Regions from separate parts of the Homo sapiens genome. Here region 1 is linked to region 2. The links come from fine-mapping of genetic effects on gene expression. A gene starts in region 2. The other region holds a variant in brackets. All regions are shown on one strand. Distances are from middle to middle. Region 1 overlaps NFE2L2 (NFE2 like bZIP transcription factor 2). Region 2 holds the start of NFE2L2 (NFE2 like bZIP transcription factor 2).

Region 1 (10,968 bases), 33 kb before region 2:
TAAGAACTCCTGTTTTTAACCTGATTTCCTCCCCCCCACCTCCACACATGCACACACACACTTTTTTTTTGGTAAAATGGATTTATAATTCCCTCCCTTCAGTAAATCAGAAGGTTAAATTCAATAGCTTAAAGAACTTAGTACCTGTCTTATGGACCCTAAAGATAGTGTCTTGGTAATGCTGGATACTGTCTTACAAGGATATCCTGAAGCATACCTAAAATTTTAATGGGTGATAAAAGTTATGTCAATGTCTTAAGCGTTTCTCCCCCACCCCCCAACATAGGATTGAAGTTTTCTTTTGTTTTTTGTTTTTTTGAGACGGAGTCTCGCTCTGTCTCCCAGGCTGGAATGCAGTGGCGCGATCTCTGCTTACTGCAAGCTCCACCTCCCGGGTCCACGCCATTCTCCTGCCTCAGCTTTCCGAGTAGTTGGGACTACAGGCGCCCGCCACCACGCCCGGCTAATTTTTTGTATTTTTAGTAGAGACAGGGTTTCACCGTGTTGAACAGGGTCTCGATCTCCTGACCTCGTGATCCACCCGCCTCAGCCTCCCACCTGGGATTACAGGCGTGAGCCACCACACCCGGCCCTGAAGTTTTCTAGTCTTTAATTTTTTTCAAGTTCTCAAGTGTCAAAACAGCATCAACTGAAAACAAAGTGCCCTGGTAGCTATCATCTTTAAATTGGAATGAGAATTATCTTGTATATATTCTGAGGCTTAGTCACAAATATAGATATGGCAAACATATTTGAGCAGCGCTCCCCTCAAAAACAGGAACTTGGGAAATCTTGGCAAGAAGAAAGGTTTTTATACAAAGTTGTGCAATTACAGTTTGATAGTCAAATTTGAGGACAGTCAGGTATAAAGCTCTCAATTCAAATGCAGATCAAGAGAAATGAACACTTGGTTTTATTAGTCATGGCATAGTTGAGATTTGTTATTTGAAATTTGTAATTTCTCACAATAATTTTTTATTCTTCACTGTAATATTTTTAGGTACCATAAGTTTCTATGGCCAGTTCCCTCGTATGAATTGGTCAGAATACGTTGAAGTTTACTACCAAAGAATGTCTGTTTTTGTCTGCCCAGCAATGCTCTTCCCCCTTCAAATATCAGTCAATGTTAGGTGCTCCAGATAGCTGCTGCTGAGATTCTTGCCACCATCTCTGCACTCACAATTTGGTCTAAGAATAGACAGTTTGTTCAAGACCTGGGATTATGTTCTGAGTTTGGAAAAGTGATGTCTTCTCCCGAGATTCCCCATCACCACACCATCAGAGGAAGGAAGTTCCTTGATAGCACGTGAAAAATATTCAGGACCCCAAATCTTCACACTTGGCTTGGTGTGGTGGCTCCCGTGTAATCCTAGCACTTTGGGAGGCCAAGGCAGGCAGATCACTTGAGGTCAGGAGTTCCATACCACCCTGGTCAACATGGTGAAACCCTGTCTCCACTAAAAATGCAAAAAAAAAAAAAAAAAAAAAAAAAATTTAACCAGGTGGGTGGCAGGTACTTGTAATCCCAGCTACTTGGGAGGCTGAGGCAGGAGAATCACTTGAACCTGGGAAGTGCGGGTTGCAGTGAGCCAAGATTGTGCCACTGCACTCCATCGTGGGTGACAGAGTGGGACTCCATCTCAAGAAAAAAAAAAAATCTTCACATTTGAACCCTTAGATTCATTAGTCCTTGAAGTCATTTTCAATCCTGAACTTTAACAGTGAAATTCTCTAGTAAGCTAATTTGACTGGATTCACTTGTAGCCAAAAAGCATAATACAAGACCAAAGGAAATTGACAAAACACCCATCATTTATGCAATGTTTACTATGAGCTAGGCGCAGTGCTTTTTGTGGGGTGACCCACTGAGTACCACTCTGCTTTATAGATGAGAAAATATGCTTAAGAGGAGGCAGGAGAATGGCGTGAACCCGGGAGGTGGAGCTTGCAGTGAGCCGAGACAGCGCCAATGCACTCCAGCCTGGGTGACAGAGCGAGACTCTGTCTCAAAAAAAAAAAAAAAAAAAAGTGCTAAAGTGAGTTGCTAAACGCCATTCTAGGAATTAGCAGCAAGCCCATGCAGTGTTGCTAGGAGTCTTCACTGAATAGTTACACATGCAGTGCTTATTTTAAACATACTTAATGAATCTCCATTTCCTCACTTTAAAAAGGCAAAACAATATGAACAAGTGAAACCTGCTTAGGTGAAGAAATAATCGATAACTGAATGGCTCGTTGGAAAGCATGCAGATTTTCAAAGGGTTTTGAGGGGACTTGTTTTTGTACACTCTAGTTAACGTCTAATAGATCTCTCGGTATGTCCAAAAAGGAACTGATTTTCCCACGTGGGTCTCCCTCTATCCAGTCTTCTCCATCCTCAGACAACTCAATTCTTAAAGATGTTAAACTTCTTGACTCACATCCATTCTACCAGAAAATCCTTTTAGTTCTCTGAGACATGGCAGAATCCAATGTCCCTGACTACCCCTCTTCTATCACTCTAGACCAAGCTGCCATCATAATGCATGAACCTCTCAATTGGTTTTCTACTCCCATCCTTACCCTCTATACTGTTCTCAACACACAAGCCAGAGGAAATGTTAAAAGTTGTAGCTCTGAGGCATTTTATAGAAAGTTGATACTCATACACATAAAAAGTAGTAGGAACCTAAAATTCATCATACATTGATTTCATTTTTGAGCTTGACGTAGTAAATCCTTAGCTTCATTGATTTGGGTTGCTATATAAGGAGATCCTTCTTTGGGCGATTTAAGATCATATTTGTTACTGAGCATCTCTTATTTTTCCTTTAATGGCAGTAAGGCTTAGAGGTAGTATTGCTGCTTCCCATTTTGTCCTTTTTAGTTCAAGCCCACCTCTCTAATAGCCACCGCTGAAGGCAGATTTTGGTAGACTTTGAAAATCCTGTTTTACTTCAGGCTATATGTGCTTCCTGACTTGCAAAACCTGCAGCAGAAATGGCCAGTCCAGCTGCCACCACTGTACTGACCGTGGCTGCAGCTCAGCTTCTTTCACCTCCATCTGGATTGGTACAGCCACCTGCCACTAACTACACTCCTTTACCAGAAAGCTAGGCAGCCACTGCCAGCAGTCACAAACCCCAGAGGGAACTTTAAAAAAACAGTTGAGTGTTACTCCTGAACAGCACCATTAGCGCCCCACCTCACTTACGTAGACTTACGAGGCTCTGTCATATTCCACCCCCATCCCTTTCTTCAGCCACATTGTCCTTGTTTTTTCTCAAATGTGGTTCAGCCTTTGGACCTGCTGTGTCTTGTCTGCAGTGTTCTTGGCTATGAGAACAGCTTCTCCCACACCTTCAAATGTTGCCACTTCAGTAAGGCTCTTCCCATTTACAGCCTTAAGTTGTGACGCTTTTTACTGGTTTTCCCCGTCCAGTTCCTTCTAACATAGTGGAGTATGCTTGTTACCTCCCCTTCGCTAGAATGCAAGTTCCAGGCCAGGCAGGGATATTGGTTTTGTCCTTTCTACTTCAAACTCTGCCTAGGGTATAGTGGGCGTATGTCTACTGATGGAAATAAATGAATCAGTGCTTTCATGTCAGTGTGTAACATTTTCTTGGGTTTAGATGTACCTGCTATTGAAGAGGCAAAGTATCCTCTTGATATACTTTATTTCTCTGTAACCCTGGTACTAGAAATGTAGTATAAAATTATTTTTATATTTTCAAATAAAACATTCTGAAAATGCAAAACATCTAAATTAAATGGATGATTATCTTATGGAAAATACTGTGTGAATAAACTCAAAGGAATCCCAAACAAATAATTTAACAGTCATAATAATCCTTTATTAGTACCAGCTCTTAAAATTTTTTTTTTTTGCCAGAGCTAAACAATTTAATATAAAAAATGCCATTTTTTGTCCATACAGTATTTATAAAAAAGTACATAGTGGTTAGTTTTGCAATAATTTCTTTTTAGCCAGATGTCATATCATCATATAAATCTATGAATATAACAAATGACATAAGAACAGTATAAATAAGTTTTTGTAGTATTTACACTTACACAGAAACTAGCCCAAATGGTGTCCTAAGAAATTGTTTACAGTTAAAGTGAAACTACTGATTCAACATACTGACACTCCAATGCTTTTTAAAGTTTCGTATTATTTTCTATACTAGTTTTGGCTATGATTTTGCATAGAATTACTTA[T/C]AAAGTATGAGCATTTCACATCACAGTAGGAGCTTTTAGTATAATAGTACAAAAAAACTAGCTCAGAAAAGGTCAAATCCTCCTAAATCTAGTTTTTCTTAACATCTGGCTTCTTACTTTTGGGAACAAGGAAAACATTGCCATCTCTTGTTTGCTGCAGGGAGTATTCACTAGGAGAATAAGGTTTTCCATCTTCATCACGTAGCATGCTGAAAACTTCGAGATATAAGGTGCTGAGTTGTTTTTTCAGTAGGTGAAGGCTTTTGTCATTTTCTCCTTTTTCTTTGAGCAATTTTTCTTTTTCATCTTTCAAATGATCTAAATCTTGCTCTAGTTCTACTATATTTTCCAGTTTTCTTTTTCTGCAATTCTGAGCAGCCACTTTATTCTTACCCCTCCTACGTATATCCCGAATTAATGCAAGTTGAGCTTCATTGAACTGCTCTTTGGACATCATTTCGTTGAAGTCAACAACAGGGAGGTTAATGATTTTTTCTACAGGGAATGGGATATGGAGAGCTTTTGCCCTAAGTTCATCTCTTGTGAGATGAGCCTCCAAGCGGCTTGAATGTTTGTCTTTTGTGAATGGGGTTTTCCGATGACCAGGACTTACAGGCAATTCTTTCTCTGGTGTGTTCTCACATTGGGCATCATGCACGTGAGTGCTCTGCCCCTGAGATGGTGACAAGGGTTGTACCATATCCCCAGAAGAATGTACTGGTGTTTTAGGACCATTCTGTTTGACACTTCCAGGGGCACTATCTAGCTCTTCCACTTCAGAATCACTGAGGCCAAGTAGTGTGTCTCCATAGCTGGAAGATTCCACTGAGTGTTCTGGTGATGCCACACTGGGACTTGTGTTTAGTGAAATGCCGGAGTCAGAATCATTGAATTCTGCTGTGCTTTCAGGGTGGTTTTGGTTGAAAGCTTTGCAAAGTGATAGATCAGAAACATCAATGGGCCCATTTAGAAGTTCAGAGAGTGAATGGCTTAAAGTAGCAGGTGAGGGCATGCTGTTGCTGATACTGGGCTCAGCTATGAAAGCAGAATAAAATTCATCACCAAAATCTGTGTTGACTGTGGCATCTGAATTTAATGAGTTCACTGTCAACTGGTTGGGGTCTTCTGTGGAGAGGATGCTGCTGAAGGAATCCTCAAAAGCATTAAGAAAATGTGGACTACAGTTACCTACTTCTTTTTCCATTGAGGGTATAGATGAGTAAAAATGATAATTGTCAACTTCTGTCAGTTTGGCTTCTGGACTTGGAACCATGGTAGTCTCAACCAGCTTGTCATTTTCAATATTAAGACACTGCATGAGAAGGAAGTTTATACTATATAAATCAAAGTTAATCCATGATAATACGTGATAAATTTAGATAAACTCCCTACCCACATTATCTTCAGGCTTATCTCTATAATTTATTATCTATAATTCAGAGATAATTCTCATTTCCAATACATATTTACGCCTAAGCGTTATGTATTATTTTCAGAGTTCCCAGATCAGACGTCAGGTTTATAACATTCTATCCTCAAGATGTCCAACCAATTTAACTAGCATGGGCAGTACTCATGACTAAGTTAATAGCACCCTCCAATCCTTCCTATAAATAGGTGGTATATAAATAATCAGAATGACTAAAGGCACTGAATATAAAAAAAATCTCCAGTATTACATTCTATTTTAGTTACCTGTAACTCAGGAATGGATAATAGCTCCTCCCAAACTTGCTCAATGTCCTGTTGCATACCGTCTAAATCAACAGGGGCTACCTGAGCAACAGAAGTTTCAGGTGACTGAGCCTGATTAGTAGCAATGAAGACTGGGCTCTCGATGTGACCGGGAATATCAGGAACAAGTGACTGAAACGTAGCCGAAGAAACCTAAAATTGATAAGGCATTGATTTATGAGTCTTCCACCAACAGGGGATGAGTAAGCTCTAAGGCACCACTACAAAACAAAATGGAATCAGCTGCAGTTCTGTGTCTCTCTACTTACTAACCAGTCATGACCCCGTTTGTAAATAACAAATCTTTTTTTCCTACCCCACTGACTCAAATTTATAATTTGCTGGTCTGTTTCAGCTTAAGCATTTGAAAGTAAACTTTAAAATGCGTAAGTACAATCTTTAGGATTTAGTTTATATAATATCTAGCACAGTGGTACTAGATAAAACAGATTTATTAAAATTGTTAACTGAACAAGTCTTCGTTTATTGCCCAGCTGGCTCTTTACTCACCAAACCTCTTAGATACTTGCAGCAAATGGGTTATTTGTTTCCATGGTTATGCTGTCCATGTTTCTGGCTATGCAATAGTCAATGGTTTTGGTTTTGTATTGTGTGAAGGGTTTTTTTTTTTCTTAATTGTAAAGTTATTTATAGGCTAAGGTTTCCTTGACAAGAGTATTTCCTTGGTTAAAAAATTTCCTCCTAAAAATGTTTTTATTCTTTTAAATGGAGATTCATTGACGGGACTTACATAGAATAGATTGTTATTTTATAGTTATGATGGAGTTTTTCTATTAACCAGGTTATTTTATACCTCACCTCATTGTCATCTACAAACGGGAATGTCTGCGCCAAAAGCTGCATGCAGTCATCAAAGTACAAAGCATCTGATTTGGGAATGTGGGCAACCTGATAAAAGGGAATGACACAAAGGAAAACAAAAATGGTTAAATATTCCATTGCCAAGCTAAATATTCAATAATTGATGTTCATAAAATATTTATAATCAAGTTAAGTAAATATTTATCTTATTTCAGAGATCACTTTGATGCACAATTTGAACTAGACCACATGGGTTCAGATCTTAGCTCCTCCAATTTTCTGAGTGATCTGGGCAAATTATTTAACCTTTGTGAGCTTCAGTTGCTCATCGTAGATAAAACAGGGATAATGGTAACTAATTAATATAGTTGTGTTAATTAAATCAGTCAGTATATGTTCTTAAAACAGTGCTTGCCACACACAGTAACGCCAGTAATCCCTGCTACTTGGTTCTCCTGCTACTACTTCTGTTGCTGCTACTTGATCCTTACAGGATGTTTCTATACTTTACAAAACTCTTTGGTGTAACTTAAGTCTTCCCAATCCTCACAATAACACTGTTAAGATCAATAGGTTGGGTACTGAACTCAGGTTAGGTACTGAACTCATCAGGAGGCTGAGGTTGGAAAGTAGATTTGACAAGGTTAAGTAAAAGAAAGGCAAAGCTGGAACTCAAATCCAGATATTTTAATTCCTTGCTCAGTGTTTCCTTAAACCTGCCATAACTTTCCCAAGAACTGAGTACTCTGTACCTGGGAGTAGTTGGCAGATCCACTGGTTTCTGACTGGATGTGCTGGGCTGGCTGAATTGGGAGAAATTCACCTGTCTCTTCATCTAGTTGTAACTGAGCGAAAAAGGCTTTCTCTTGCTCCTTTTGGAGTTGTTCTTGTCTTTCCTTTTCAAGTTTTTTCTGTTTTTCCAGCTCATACTCTTTCCGTCGCTGACTGAAGTCAAATACTTCTCGACTTACTCCAAGATCTATATCTTGCCTCCAAAGTATGTCAATCAAATCCATGTCCTATGTTTAAGACAAAAAAAGGAAGGAGAGAGCTCATGTTTTTTAAATGACAGATACCACATAAATTAATTCACATTATGCCACTGTTGATGGTGGGAAGTGGGGAGATTACAAATACAATCTAAATGAGAACACAGATCCAATGTTCTAGAAGAGCACAGTTAATTCCATTCAATGAATCTATTCATTAAAGACAACAAACAACCTACAAACACATAGCCATCCATTCTAATCACTTGGATCATTAATGATAGGGTGATGGTAGAGGTCACTAAAGGGCAAAGTCACAAATGGTTTGAATGAGAAGAAATCCCACCCTTGTTTAATGGAATATAGAAATTAGAGCAAGCACTCTAAGCCACTGGCTTATATAAGAGAAGTGGGGTCTGGAAAACATTACTGAATACATGGAGTTTTCTTTAAACTTTGCTCAGCAAATATCCAGTTTATAGAGGGATAACTCTCAAGTTAAAGTGTCAATCTAGCAGTTGTGAAATATCACCATTCTTTCCATCTTTCCTACACTAGATTATCTTCTCCCCATCACTGCTTGCTACTCTTATCTCTGTGGCTTACCTATATGCCTGTAATCCCAGCACTTTGGGAGGCCAAGGTGGGTGGATCACCTGAGGTCTGGAGTTCGAGATCAGCCTGGCCAACATGGTGAAACCACGTCTCTACTAAAAATACAAAAATCAGCCGGGTGTGGTGGTACGTGCCTGTAATCCCAGCTACTCAGGAGGCTGAGGCAGGAGAATCGGCTTGAACCTGGGAGGCAGAGGTTGCAGTCAGCTGAGATCGCACCACTGCACTCCAGCCTGGGCAACAGAGCAAGACTCCATCTCAAAAAAAAATAAAATAAAAGCAGACAGGGACAGGTGCGGTGGCTCACGCCTACAAGCCCAGCACTTTGGGAGGCTGAGGCAGGTGGATTGCTTGAGCCCAGGAGTTCGCGACCAGCCTGGGCAACATGGAGAGACCCTGTTTCTACCAAAACAAAAACAAACAACAACAACAACAACTGGTGTGGTGGCGCACACCTGTGGTCCCAGCTACTCAGGAGGCTGAGGTAGGAGGATCACTTCAGTCCAGGAGGTCATGGCAGCAGTGAGCTATGATCGTGTCACTGCACTCCAGCCCGGGCAACAAAGTGAGACCCTGTCTCATAAATAAATAAATAAATAAATAAAACTATGGCTCCAGGGAAGGATTAAAGGTATTAAGTTTTAAGACATAGGAAGAATCTTACAAAGAGGGAATGGTTTTGATGAGGAGAGGCTGAGCTTGGTGACTCAGGCCTGTAATCCCAGGAGTTTGGGAGGCCAAGGCAGGAGGATTGCTGGAGCACAGGAGTTACTAGCCTGGGCACCATAGTGACACCTGTTTCTACCCAAAATCAAAACAAATTAGTTGCACGTGGTGATACGAGCCTGTAGTCCCAACTATTAGGGAGACTGAAGTGAGAGGATTGCTTGAGCCCAGGAAGTCAAGGCCATGGTGAGCTGTGATTGTACCACTGCACTCCAGCTTGGGTGACAAGACCCTGTTTCACACACACAAAAAGATACATGGGGAGAGAATTTATATGACTAGGCTAGGCATAGGAACCACATCCAGATTTTCCTAACCAAAAATGTGTCAATAGCAGTTTTTCTGATTTGTAATTTTAGTCTTTGGAAAAATCTAAATAGGTAGGAAATCTAAATCTGTTTCCATTCCACAAATCACCTATAGGGGAAATAATTAATTTGAGAATGGAAAAAAATCAAGATGGGGGAACGGGAGTTGGGACTTGAAGGCCAGTGGGTACAGTGTAGACACGTCACACTTTGCATTTCATTCTGCTGACAGCTGGCAACGCCAGACTTAGAGTTCTATTACTTTCAGCTTCCCAAGGACGCAAATAACATGGTGGTTGTTTCAGTGAGGAGTCAGGCTATTTTTATCCAACAGAGGAGCAGGCCACCCAGCCTGGAGGCAGCGCAGCTAGCTAGATGGCACAGGCCACCTGTGTCCATGATTGAAGGTTGGCGTTGGAATCTTAAATGCTATGAAACCCTGCTCATGGGGCTCATTATTCTAGCCTTGAACAATATATATTGTAAAGCACACAAAGTAGGCATAGTTAAAGTAGCACTTGTAGTTAGGTATACCTCACTAGGACATACCTAATTATCTTTAAGCCAGTATCTATTAAGGGCTTCCTATATGCTATGCACTGTTCTAAGTACTTTACATATAGAAACTATTCCTCAAAACAGCCTTATACAGAGAAAACATTCCTGTTATACAGTATAAGAATACTGAGGTTAAGAAAAAAGATACTACCAGAAAGTGGCTGAACAAAGACACATACCCAGGCAGCTTCAGTCGGGTTCATGCTTTATTAGCCATGAGCCTACACTATTATAAAATGGCATGGCATTTGCTGCAAATAACCTATGCATATCCCTTTATATACTTTAACTCATCCCTGGATTACTTACAATACCTAGTAAAGTGTAAATGCTGTGTAAATAGTTGTTATACTGTATTTTATGTGTGTATTGTTATTTTTTCGGGTTTTTTTTCCACTTTTTTCCTTTTGAAATTTTATTATTTATTTACTCATTTTGAGATAGGGTCTCACTCTGTCACCCAGGCTGGAGTGTGGTGATGCAATCATGGCTCACTGCAGCCTTCACCTGGGCTCAAGTGATCCTCCCACCTCAGCCTCCCAAGTAGCTGGGACTACAGGCACATGCCACCAAGCCCAGCTAATTACTTTTTGTAGAGATGGCGTCTTGCCATTTTGCCCAGGCTGGTCTTGAATTCCCGGGCTCCATTGATTTTCCTGCCTCAGCTTCCCAAAGTGCTAGGATTACAGGCATGAACCACTCCACTGTGCTTGGCCTTTTTCCAAATATTTTTGAACCAATCTGCCATTGGTTGCATCATGGAACCAGAGGCTGCATGGGCCGACTGTATATACACTTGGCTTTGGAATCTTGGTAGTATGAAGCGGCCAGTCTGCAGGTCAGATTAAGTCTGTAGGTCACCTAGATCAGTTTCCTGGCCAAGAGCAACAAAATAGCAACCACAGAGCATTCAGTCGACTATACATGGCTATCTTCTCAGGGGGATTCCCACTAAAATAGGTATGAGAATAATTTCTATTTTAAAAAATGATTTGTTTCCATTCTGATGGACATGT
Region 2 (10,968 bases):
TGGACTTGTCTTTACTAGTACCAGCAGTTTGGACCAAATAAACTTACATGCTCAAATACACAAAAAGACTTTTAAATACCAGGATTTGCAACACACAGGTATTATAGTACATATGCCGTAAAAACGAATGATTAAACGTGCCTCCCCTACTCAAAGTTCTTAATATACTTAATAATCATAGTTAAGAGTTATTTATTATGGCAGAAACTGACACACAGAAGGCTCAAACTTTAGGTAGCACAGGATTTTGTTTAACAGTCTTGTTTTCATGTCTAGGGTATAGTCTGGTACAAGAAATCCATCTAGGCCAGGCGCGGTGGCTTAAGCTTGTAATCCCAGCACTTTGGGAGGCTGAGGCAGGCGGATCATGAGGTCAGGAGATCGAGATCATCCTGGCTAACACAGTGAAACCCCATCTCTACTAAAAATACAAAAAATTAGCCAGGCGTGGTGGCGGGTGCCTGTAGTACCAGCTACTCGGGAGGCTGGGGCAGGAGAATGGCGTGAACCCGGGAGGTGGAGCTTGCAGTGAGCGGAGATCATGCCACTGCACTCCAGCCTGGGCGACAGAGCAAGACTGCGTCTCAAAAAAAAAAGCCATCTGTATTTCTCCAAGTTTCTGAATGTTAATATTTAATATTATACACTTGAACATATTTTTGCTTTCATTTACAGAAAACATACCATTAGCAATTGAATAAATCTTGGCCTATACCTTAAAGCCCTTTTAATAAATGTTTGTTGGCGCTTATTTAAAAGCAGGTAGCAGTGAAATTTCAATAGCTCCTAGAAATTAGATGATCAAAGAATAAACTCTATTCTCTATTTGTGGCAAACTTATAATGAATATACATTTCTACAGTCAGAGATGAAGACAAGCAGGTTAAAAATGACATCTAGTAAACTTGTCCTCCTCTACCCTGCTGTGCAACATATTTCAGTCAACTTTCAGAAAGTGGCTGGACCAAGCATTTAAATGCCCTGAGGTTGACCTGGACCAACTTTTAGGCAAATCATCCATCAGATCCTATAAGTCCTGCAGCACACTTAATTCAGACAAATAAGACAATAATTCCAAAAACAACTTAACAATAAGGACTAAGAAAGTGTTTAATTTTGAGATGTACTATTCTCAAAGACCCAAGTAAGCTTCAACTAGATAAGAGTTGAGCCCTTATGCTTGCTATAGTTCAGAAGTGCCAAAACATGAGATTAGGGTTGAATTTGCGCCATCAGCTTTCTGCTAGCTGTTTTCAACTCAAATTTTCCCCATTCTGCTCTCTTTCCTTCAGCCTGGTTTAACCCTGTCTGTCACACTCTTCACCATATTCTTACTACCAAACTTATTTTTGAGCACTACTTCAAAACAAAAAGAGCCAATGGAACAGAAGAAATGTACCAAGTAGCAAGGCAAACAAAGGCAAAGACTCCAGTAGCTAAGAGATTTAATTAAGAAAAAAGGCAGTTTCTGAAAAATGTGAGGCAGAATCTTGGACATTGCCAAACATCAGAAATTTTTAAAACTATTATTATATTAAGAAACAGACTGGCGCAGTGGCTCACACCTGTAATCCCAACACTTTGGGAGGCCGAGGCGGGTGGATCACCTGAGGTCAGGAGTTCGAGACCAGCCCAGCCTGGCCAACATGGTAAAACCCCATCTCTACTAAAAATACAAAAATTAGCCGGGCAGTGGGTGCCTATAATCCCAGCTACTCGGGAGGCTGAAGCAGGAGAATCACTTGAACCCGGGAAGTAGAGGCTGCAGTGAGCCAAGATCAGGCCACTGCATTCCAGCCTGGGCAACAGAACAAGACTTCATCTCAAAAAAAAAAAAAAACAAAAAACAAAAAACAGTCCTGCCTTTCTAAATTGAATCCACCGAGGCCTCTGTGTCTTCCTTAAAAGGACCACAGTGGGTACCATTGATGGATTGTATTCACTCTCCCTGTATTTAACAAGGTCCACCTCCCCACGTCACATACAGTGATTAAATGTCTTGCTAAATGGAAAAGCTGCAGACATTAATCTTTTATATTCCGGCCTCTCCTTCCCCCAGAATAGGCAAATCTCAACTTACCCACTTTTTAAAGTGTGAGCTTTTCTTCCTATTTAGAGTTTAAGGAGTTTTGGTACAGTCTGGAAGTGGTGATTAGAAGCCCCCAGGAGTCAAACCTGTTTGAATGCTACCTTGGCCACTCAATAGTATGGTCACCTTAGCAGGTCCTGGCCTTTCTCTATGCCTCTCTCCTAACCTTTCCTAACCTAATGCCTGATCTAACTATTATGCCTGGTTTTCCCAACCTGGAAACCAGGGATAATAATATTTCCCGTGAGGTTACTGTAAAATTATGCATGTGAAGCAATTATGTCTGGCACCCAGGGACGTGCCCAGTAACTTATCTATTATTATCTTAGTGCCAAATTCTTCCTGCATACTGAAAAGTTAACCCAGGCTTGAGGAACAGTTAAGGAGGAAATATTGACACAAAACCCCCTTTAAATGTCTTCAGTCAGGACAGAGGAAATTCCCAGAAAAAAAAATGTACTTGTTGGGTTCCTTTTTTTCATGCAGCTTTGTTAAACATGATTTATCCTCAATAAAAACAAATATTAAGAAAAATGATGCATTTGGCTTTCAACTTTTCCTGGTAATCCTAAAGACAGAGTCAGTTTTCCCCCCAACATTGCTTATAAGAACCCAGGGCAAGAAAGAAAGATTTCAAAATGGCCCAAGTTATTTTTAATGCGTAAAAGACTGATGTGAGTTATGCATTTATCCTCCTACATGCTGCTTCCACAACCTCTCAAGAGATTTTTCACATATCTAAAAAGTCAAGTTGTTCTTTGCTTAACATTCATTCAGGAGATGAGAGGCCTGTCCTATTTTTCTTTTGTTTGACTTAAAAATAATCTCATCGGTCTATTTCAATATCAACTTCATCCCTCATCTAGGAAAGTGCTTTATCTCTCCAAGACACCCTTGAAAAGAGTAATGGATGGTTCCTTCCACCTAATGGAGATACTGAATCTAAGGCTCTCCTTACTGCCCTGTTTATCAACACATCCTCTGCACAGAAGGTGAAAAACTATATCCTACTACCACTTCACACCTGGAGAGTTTTTTTTGACAAAAGGTCAAGAAAATGTTTGACTCTGTTCAAATCTTTATGGATGACAACAATCTAATATGAATCATAAACAAAATCAATTCTAAATTTTCTTGTTCTTTTTCTGTTTTCAAATATGCAAATCGATGTCTGATTACAAAGGTAGAAAAGCAGTTATTTTTATCAAACGTAATTGGAAAATACACACTTAATGCGGTACATATGTTTCACGCATTTTTGTATAAGGAATGTTATATTACACAGCAAAGAAAGAAAAATTCAAAAATAATAGAGGGCTGTAGACAATTCCGGAAATCAGAAAAACTAAAGTTCATTTTTATCATATATCCTTCAGTCAAACAAGCATTCCTATAGATAACTCTTGAACAGCAGCTATTAAATAAATCGGAAGGTACAATTTAATTCTTCACTAGTTGGAACCAGAAGAATACAATCCCAATGAAGACTGGGGAAAAGTTCAAGACAAACAACTTTAAAGGGGGAAAAAAGCACAATTAATACATTGTCCATAACTTAAAACTTTACAATAGATCTTTGGAATTAACCGAAAACTTTACATTTAACAGCATAAACGTATTTACTGTACATCAAGTACACATTTCCTTGAATTCCAATTTTTTTCCTAAAATTCATTTACAAAAGAAGTTAGAAATATAAATATCTACTTTTAAAGTTTCTACAAAGGATGAGCAGAAACTTCTTTTCACTTTTATAACAATTCACAGAAATTAGCAAGTGTTTTGAAACGCAAGCGTTCCACTCTCTGCCCCTGCAGAAGAGGGGGAACATGTTAAGAAATTGAGGCAAATTCTCAACTGAAAAGGAAACATATATAAAGTACTCAGGGGAGAAATAATAGCTGAAAGCAAAAAATTACTAACAGACTAAAAGCAACAGAAATTCTAATCTACACTCGCAACTCTTACCCTTGACAGCACAGAAGAGAATATCCCGTCTTACACATTTTGGAATTGCAATTCTGAAACGCTAAATCCAAAGACAAAGCCGCTCTGGGGAAAATAGCAATTGCGCAACAGATCAACAGCTCCAACCTGTCCCTTGGCCCTGGCGCGGCGAGGTTTGCACGCTATAAAGCAGGAAAGGGCCAACCGAGGGCTGCTGTGACGGCCAACCGAGCGCTGTCACGGAAGCCAAGGCCACGCGCGCGGTGAGCGCCACCAGGGGGCACCGCGTCCGAACTAGAAGCCCCGGGTGCCGCCGACTCCGGCCTCAGAGTCCACTGCCCTCGCCCGCACTTTCCCGCGGCGTTACGAGGGGCCAACTCCGGGTGCCCGAGCCCGAACCCCTCCCCGGCCGAGAAAGTGCGCGGGGCCCGGCTCAGCCGCCACACGTCGGGGCTTCTGAGCCCGCTGGGCACTTAAGGCGCTCCTCCCTCGTCCCGGGGCTGGGCTTTCAAGAGAGCTCAAGGCTGCCAGAGAGTGATCCGAGAGATGGATGACTTCGCAAAGCCGCGCCCACAGACGGCCCAGCGGGGTGAGCGCGTCGCAGCCCGCACTCAAGGAGGTCTTGGGGCGCGGCGAAGGGGCTCCGGGTCCCAGCCCGAAGGCGACCTCAGTTCCCCCGAGAGCGGCCCCGTGACTAGGCACATTTTTGCCGGCACCGAGGCGGGGGAGCCGCGCAGCCCCGGAAGGGCCGGGCCGCGCCGGCTCAGACGGCCAGCGTCCGCCCCCTCTTGCCCCGCCGCCCACCGGGCCGCTCAAACTTAGGGGCTCCGGAGTCCCAGCTCTCGGGCCCGGGGACGCGGCTGGATTCTCCCCCAAGGCCCACGCGAGCGGGCTCAGTCCCCAGACCTTCCCGCAACTTCCCACCCGTTCGCCCTCGGGCTCGTGGTCGGTCGGATCACCCGGCCGCGTCCCCGCTGCCCCTCCCCGCCCTGCCCCGGCGCAAGCGCGGCGGCTCTACCCAGCGCCGCGGTCCTGGCTCTGGCCAGACGTGGGGGAAGCCGGTTGCGGCTGTCCCTCCCGGGCCGCGGTTCCCTAGCTCCCCCGCCCCCGTCCCGGCACCACCGCAGGGCCCAGAGGGCCGAGGCAGCACCTGCTGGGACGGGAGTCCCGGCGGCGGCAGCTCCAAGTCCATCATGATGAGCTGTGGACCGTGTGTTGGGGCTCCCCGACGGCGGCCCTGTTCCGGCTGCCGAGGCGCGGCGCGGACAGGGCGGCTCTGGTGGCGGCGGCGGCGGCGGTGGCGGCTGCGTCGGCGGCTCCTCCGGGCTCCCCGGCACTCGGTAATCGGCTACACGCCGGCGGGCCCCTGCCCCGCTCCGCCTCCCGCCCCACAAGGGCGGGGCAAGAGTCCGGGCCCTTCCTTCCCCCGCCGGCCGCGCGGGCTGAGCTTCCGAAAATCCCCCACCCGCGCCGGGGCTGACGCAAGAAGCTCGCGGTCCGGGGGCGGGAAGGGACTGCCAGCTGGGGTCCCAGCAGGCGGGGGACCTAGAGGAGGTCTCCGTTAGCTCCCCGGTGCCGGCGTTCAGTTTGCCCTCCCCCGCAAATAAGGGCAGCGCTCTCGCCCGCGAGATAAAGAGTTGTTTGCGAAGGTCGCTGGAGTTCGGACGCTTTGAAACAGTTTAAACAGTTGGAACAAACACACCCGGAGCCCCGGAAAGGCGTTGGTGTAGGAGCTGCGCCTCCCTGATTTGGAGTTGCAGAACCTTGCCCTGCTTTTATCTCACTTTACCGCCCGAGAATGGCGCCAGCCGGGGTGGGGGGGGCTAAAGATTTGGACCCAGACCGTGCCACTGCCAACTGCCCTCCCGCCCTTGCTCCCTTCCCGGGCTGGGGCCAGTGGGCCCTGCCTAGGGGAGATGTGGACAGCTCCGGCAGCTCGTGTTCGCAGTCACCCTGAACGCCCTCCTCTGAACTCCCACGTGTCTCCATTCTCCTAAGCTCAGGTCGTCAAAGGCAAACGGAGAAGCCCCTTTAGGTCGGAGAGTGGTCAGTATTGCCCACCCAGAGCTGGGAGAAAAACGGGAACCCCAAGAGAACCTCTTCCCACCAAAGCGCAGCCACCACGCCACAGATGGCGCCCTTCAACAGTGTGTAATACCACAACATGCTGTAATCGTTTACTCTTTACAAATTTCTTTTTCACGTACTCACAAAATAGTACAAATTAAAAAAAGTTACAAAAACGTTTGTATAGTATTGGCTCATTTTATAAAAACGTGCCTAGAAAAAAATTGAAGGTTACCAATATATTAAATGCTGTGGAATCAACGATTTTTATGTTTCTCCTTGTTACTTCCAAGTATGCTTTAAATCTGCAGTGCGTATGTTTTATGTCTTACATTAAAAACAATTATTTAAAAATTAATCATTGCCCAGAGAAGACTTCAAGTATTTGAAACGAGGAATATTGTGAACTCTTATAAGGGTTCAAAGAGGATAGATAAATGGTTTAGTTTTGTTTTTTTCTTCCTCTTCTGCATTTACAATCTTTCTAACTCTATACAAGACTGGTTTTCAGTTTCTAGCTTCCTGGAATTATTCAAAACCAGGTGAAGTAGATAATACTGGCAGTGGTTTTGCTATTTCATTCAAAAACCACACACACACCCCTGACTATAGCAATCAACGCCCAAAAAGCTGCAGAGCTTACTTTCTCTAGGTTGCATAATTTGACACTCCCAGGATTTATGTGTAAATTTGTATATTCAGATATTCCTTGAGATAAGTGAAGCCTAAATTAATTACTTGTAATTGAAGCAAGCTTCTTTAACTCCTATTAATTCCTTTCAGCTGTTATGTGAAAACCCTGCAACATGATCTGCACAATGAAAACAAGTTAGGAGAAAACTGTTTGCAAAGGACCTCACATGAAAGATGCAGAGACATAATAATAAAATAACATTTCTGAGTCCAAGAAAAAGACAAGAGTAAATTGTTAACAATTCAAGTTACTTATTAAAATTACGACATCAGAGAAGGTAGACAATGAGCCTAGTAGGTAGGAGATACCAGAGTCATATGACATGGTTACTGCTCTAAAGGAGTTTATAAAGTATTTGGTATTTCCTTGTTAAGCCACAAAATTTCCATTGAGTTTAGACTGAATGAAATAACCTTCACTTTTCCAATGCTGCAATTTGCTGAGAGTGTGTTATTTCAGGCATCTGCAGAGTACATATTTTCAAAGGGAGGGGAGCAATATGATAAGAGTTTGAACTTGTTTAAGAAAAACAAACACTAAGGAAAAGCTGTTTGGCATTTGGTTTAGCCAAATAAAGGGAACCCCATTCTCAAGACCACCCACGTCAAGGAGGTGCCCAATCTTGGCAGACTCTGGAATGTGATTGTCTTCATATGAGAGCCTGAGCCCTTGCTTTGCCCTCCAAACCTGCCTATTGTGTTAGGAGGGCACAGATAATGCATGTTGAGAAGCTCTGGAGGAGCAAGAAAGAACAAGAAAGAGGAGGTGCTGGTTTTTCTCTCCTGTCTTGCTGCCATGGGATCCTTTTTTGCTGCCAGGCTCTCCTCGCTACTATTTGGGAAAAATACCCTCCAATTGGTTTTATGTTCTATTGACTCTTGTACCTTTTCATTGATTCCTGAATCATTTGCTGTCTTTGGGAAGACGGCCTTCCCTACATGCTTGAGATGTGTCAATTGTGATACCTTGCTCCAGATTGCTCATAAAAAATAAGCATCATTGGCCAGGTGCTCTGGCTAACGCCTATAATCCCAGCACTTTGGGAGGCCGAGGCTGGCGGATCACGAGGTCAAGAGATCAAAACCATCCTGGCCAACGTGGTGAAACCCTGTCTCTACTAAAAAATACAAAAATTAGCTGGTTGTGGTGGCATGCGCCTGTAGTCCCAGCTACTCAGGGAGGCTGAGGCAGGAGAATTGCTTGAACCCAGGAGGCGGAGGTTGCAGTGAGCCGAGATCACGCCACTGCACTCCAGCCTGGCGACAGAGTGAGACTCTGTCTAAAAAAAAAGTATCATCAAGTAAGTCTTCTGGGTATAAGAAGTCTGGATAATGGTGATGCATTGACCCCTTAGTTCCACCTCCTTTGTGCTCCAATCTGCCAAGTTGCAAGGTGCAAGAAAGTACCGATTGTTTCAAAATCCTCCATCACTTTGAGGCTTCTTCCTCTCTCTGTCACTTCCTCTCAATTGTTCTCCATGTTTGAGCCAGAAAATATTCATAATCTTTTAGAATTGTAGTTGAAATTCTACTTTGTCCAGTGTAAAGTATAGAAAGCTTCCAAAGATGGCACCCAGTAAACCACCTCTCCTGATATTGAGGCATTTGTCTAGTCCCCTCATATTGAAACAAGCATGGCTGGCCCTGCAACTTGCTTTAAGGTATGGAAAGAGGCCAGAAGTGACATTATGCCAGGTTTTAACCTAAGCTTGAAAAAGCCCTGACAGCTTTTAATTTTATACTCTTGGAAGTCAGCCATCATCCTAAGAGGTCTGACTACCTTGATGGAAAGAGAGGCCATGGGAAAAGTCATGGAAGATGAAACTCTAAATGGAGAGAGAGAGACTATGTGAACCAACACACCAGACATGTGAATGAAGAAACCATCTTGGACCTTCGAGCCCACCTATTCAAGCCCCCAAAGAACTCCAGCTCCAGCTGCTATATGACTGCAGTCACATACAAGAGACTGTAAGCAAGACCGGCAGAAGACTCCCTGGCTAAGCTAAGTCAACACCAAGAACTGTGAGAAATTATAATAAATCACTTTCAGCTATTAAATTTGGGGGTGGTTTGTTTCATAGCAATTGATAACCAAAACAGCATACTGTATGTATGGTGACTATCAAAGGCAGGGTTTCCCCTGGCTGCTCTTTGTTTGTTAACCAACATTGGGAGCACAAACAGGGAGATGATACTTGGTGATTTAATAAAACTCAGACTCTCAGAAGAAAATGACTTCCCTGGGAATGAGGAAGCTGTCTTTCCCATAACATATCTTTGTTGCTACATACAAAGTAAAAAACCTCATCACACCATGCATAAGTTTCATTTTATTAGACGATGGAGAGATAGTCTCCTTATCAAAATACACTTCACGAACACAGACATTTTATCAATGAAGTAGATGGAGGGATAAATGCATACAGAGGTTCTGACCGTGATATGACCTCATTTGTGCCAGTTATGTAAGATACTCGCTGAATATCTGCTTAGGGAGTTTGAACTTGAGCAACCTGCCCAGTGGATAAACTAAACTCCAGTATAGGCCAGGCGCGGTGGCTCACACCTATAATCCCAGGGAGGCCAAGGTGGGCGGATCACCTGAGGTCGGGAGTTTGAGATCAGCCTGACCAACATGGAGAAACCCTGTCTCTACTAAAAATACAAAATTAGCTTGGCATGGTGGTGCATGCCTGTAATGCTAGCTACTCAGGAGGCTGAGGCAGGAGAATTGCTTGAATCCGGGAGGCGGAGGTTGCAGTGAGCCGAGATCGCGCCATTGTACTCCAGCCTGGGCAACAAGAGCGAAACTCCATCTCGAAAAATAAATAAGTAAATAAAATAACAAACTCCAGTAAAGCAGTGTTCAAAATATTTGGTGTATTAATTTCAAAACACACCCGCATCCTTGGTTCCCTGGGGTGTACACCTCACTGTGCAAACTACTGGTACAATGAGCTGTACATCTCCAAAGCCAGTTTTAACTTGTGTAGTTTCCTGCTCATAAAGAAAAAGTATCCTGCAGCAACAGCAATGCAGTGAGTAAAGAGAAAAATGTTTAAAAGAGTCCTTTGAATTTTATGTGTTGATACCTATATAAATATATATGCACAGAAAAAAAAGACAGAATGCATATACTCCAAAATGTTAACCGTAATTATTTTGACTAGATGGAGACTGATGACTTTTTTTTCTCATTTTTCCATGTTTACATTGTTCTAAATAAATAAACATACTTTTTTTTTTTTGAGACAGGGTCTCGCTCTGTTACCCAGGCTGGAATGCAGTGGTGCTATCATGGCTTATTGCAGCCTAGACCTCCTGGGATCAAGTAATCTTCCCACTTCAGCCTCCTGAGTAGCTGGGATGACAAGCATGCACCACCATGCCCTGCTAATTTTAAAATTTTTTGTAGAGGGGGTAGTCTCACTATGTTGCCCAGGCTGGTCTCAAACTCCTGGCCTCAAGCAGTCCTCCTGCCTCAGCCTCCCCAAGTGCTGGGATTACAGGCATGAGCCATTGTGACTGGCCAGCATACATTACTTTTATAAGAAGAAGAAAAAAGGTGGGAGTAGGGTGTGGGAGTAAGGAAAGAACGTTGCTTTTCTCCCATGCCACTGGATCTGTTTTATTTTCAAATTGAATTATAACCACAAGCTTTGTAAATCTTTCCATTTTGTATTTATTTGAGTGGAGCCTGGAGAATTTTACCACATCTTTAAGTGTAGTTGTTGTAAGGTTCTAAAGATCCTTTCTCTTCCAATTTACTGCTATATTTGCAACGTTTAACTCAGCAGAACAGGAATTACCAAAGACAAAATTTTATGAATAGAGATTAAGAACTGCAGCCTCTCAGTAACAGGCAAAGTAGCCCAAACGTAACATCGCTTTGTGGGGAAAATAAAATACAGAAAAACATTATGCCTAGAGCTATGTCTTCAAGGACAGTTCTCAAATATTAATAATGGGAGTAGAATATCAGATAATTTTCATTTCCATCTTTGTATTTTTCTGTATTATTCAAATCCTTACAGAAAGCATTTTTAGAATTAAGGGATAAAAACAATTAAACTATTTCCACTTTGAACAAACAAAAAGCAGACTACAACGAATGGAAGAGCAGAGCATCCTCATAAACAGACCTTACAGATAATCTATAACATTCTTGG

The links.
Region 1: its variant is fine-mapped to the expression of NFE2L2 in whole blood (TOPMed, PIP 0.98).

The regions. Positions count from the first base shown.
Region 1 is chr2:177,226,497-177,237,464 of GRCh38, forward strand. It overlaps NFE2L2 (NFE2 like bZIP transcription factor 2), which reads right to left. Exons shown (of 5, transcript NM_006164.5): 2 at 7,509-7,775; 3 at 6,754-6,843; 4 at 5,896-6,087; 5 at 3,812-5,512. The coding sequence ends at 4,289. It also overlaps the pseudogene DNAJC19P5. Among named protein-coding and RNA genes, the nearest start is that of HNRNPA3, 19 kb to the left of the region's middle. The variant T/C (reference allele first, on the strand shown) is at 4,201.
Region 2 is chr2:177,259,346-177,270,313 of GRCh38, forward strand. It overlaps NFE2L2 (NFE2 like bZIP transcription factor 2), which reads right to left and starts at 5,382. Exons shown (of 5, transcript NM_006164.5): 1 at 5,187-5,382. The coding sequence starts at 5,231. RefSeq lists an enhancer at 3,356-4,555 and silencers at 4,236-4,395, 4,656-5,525.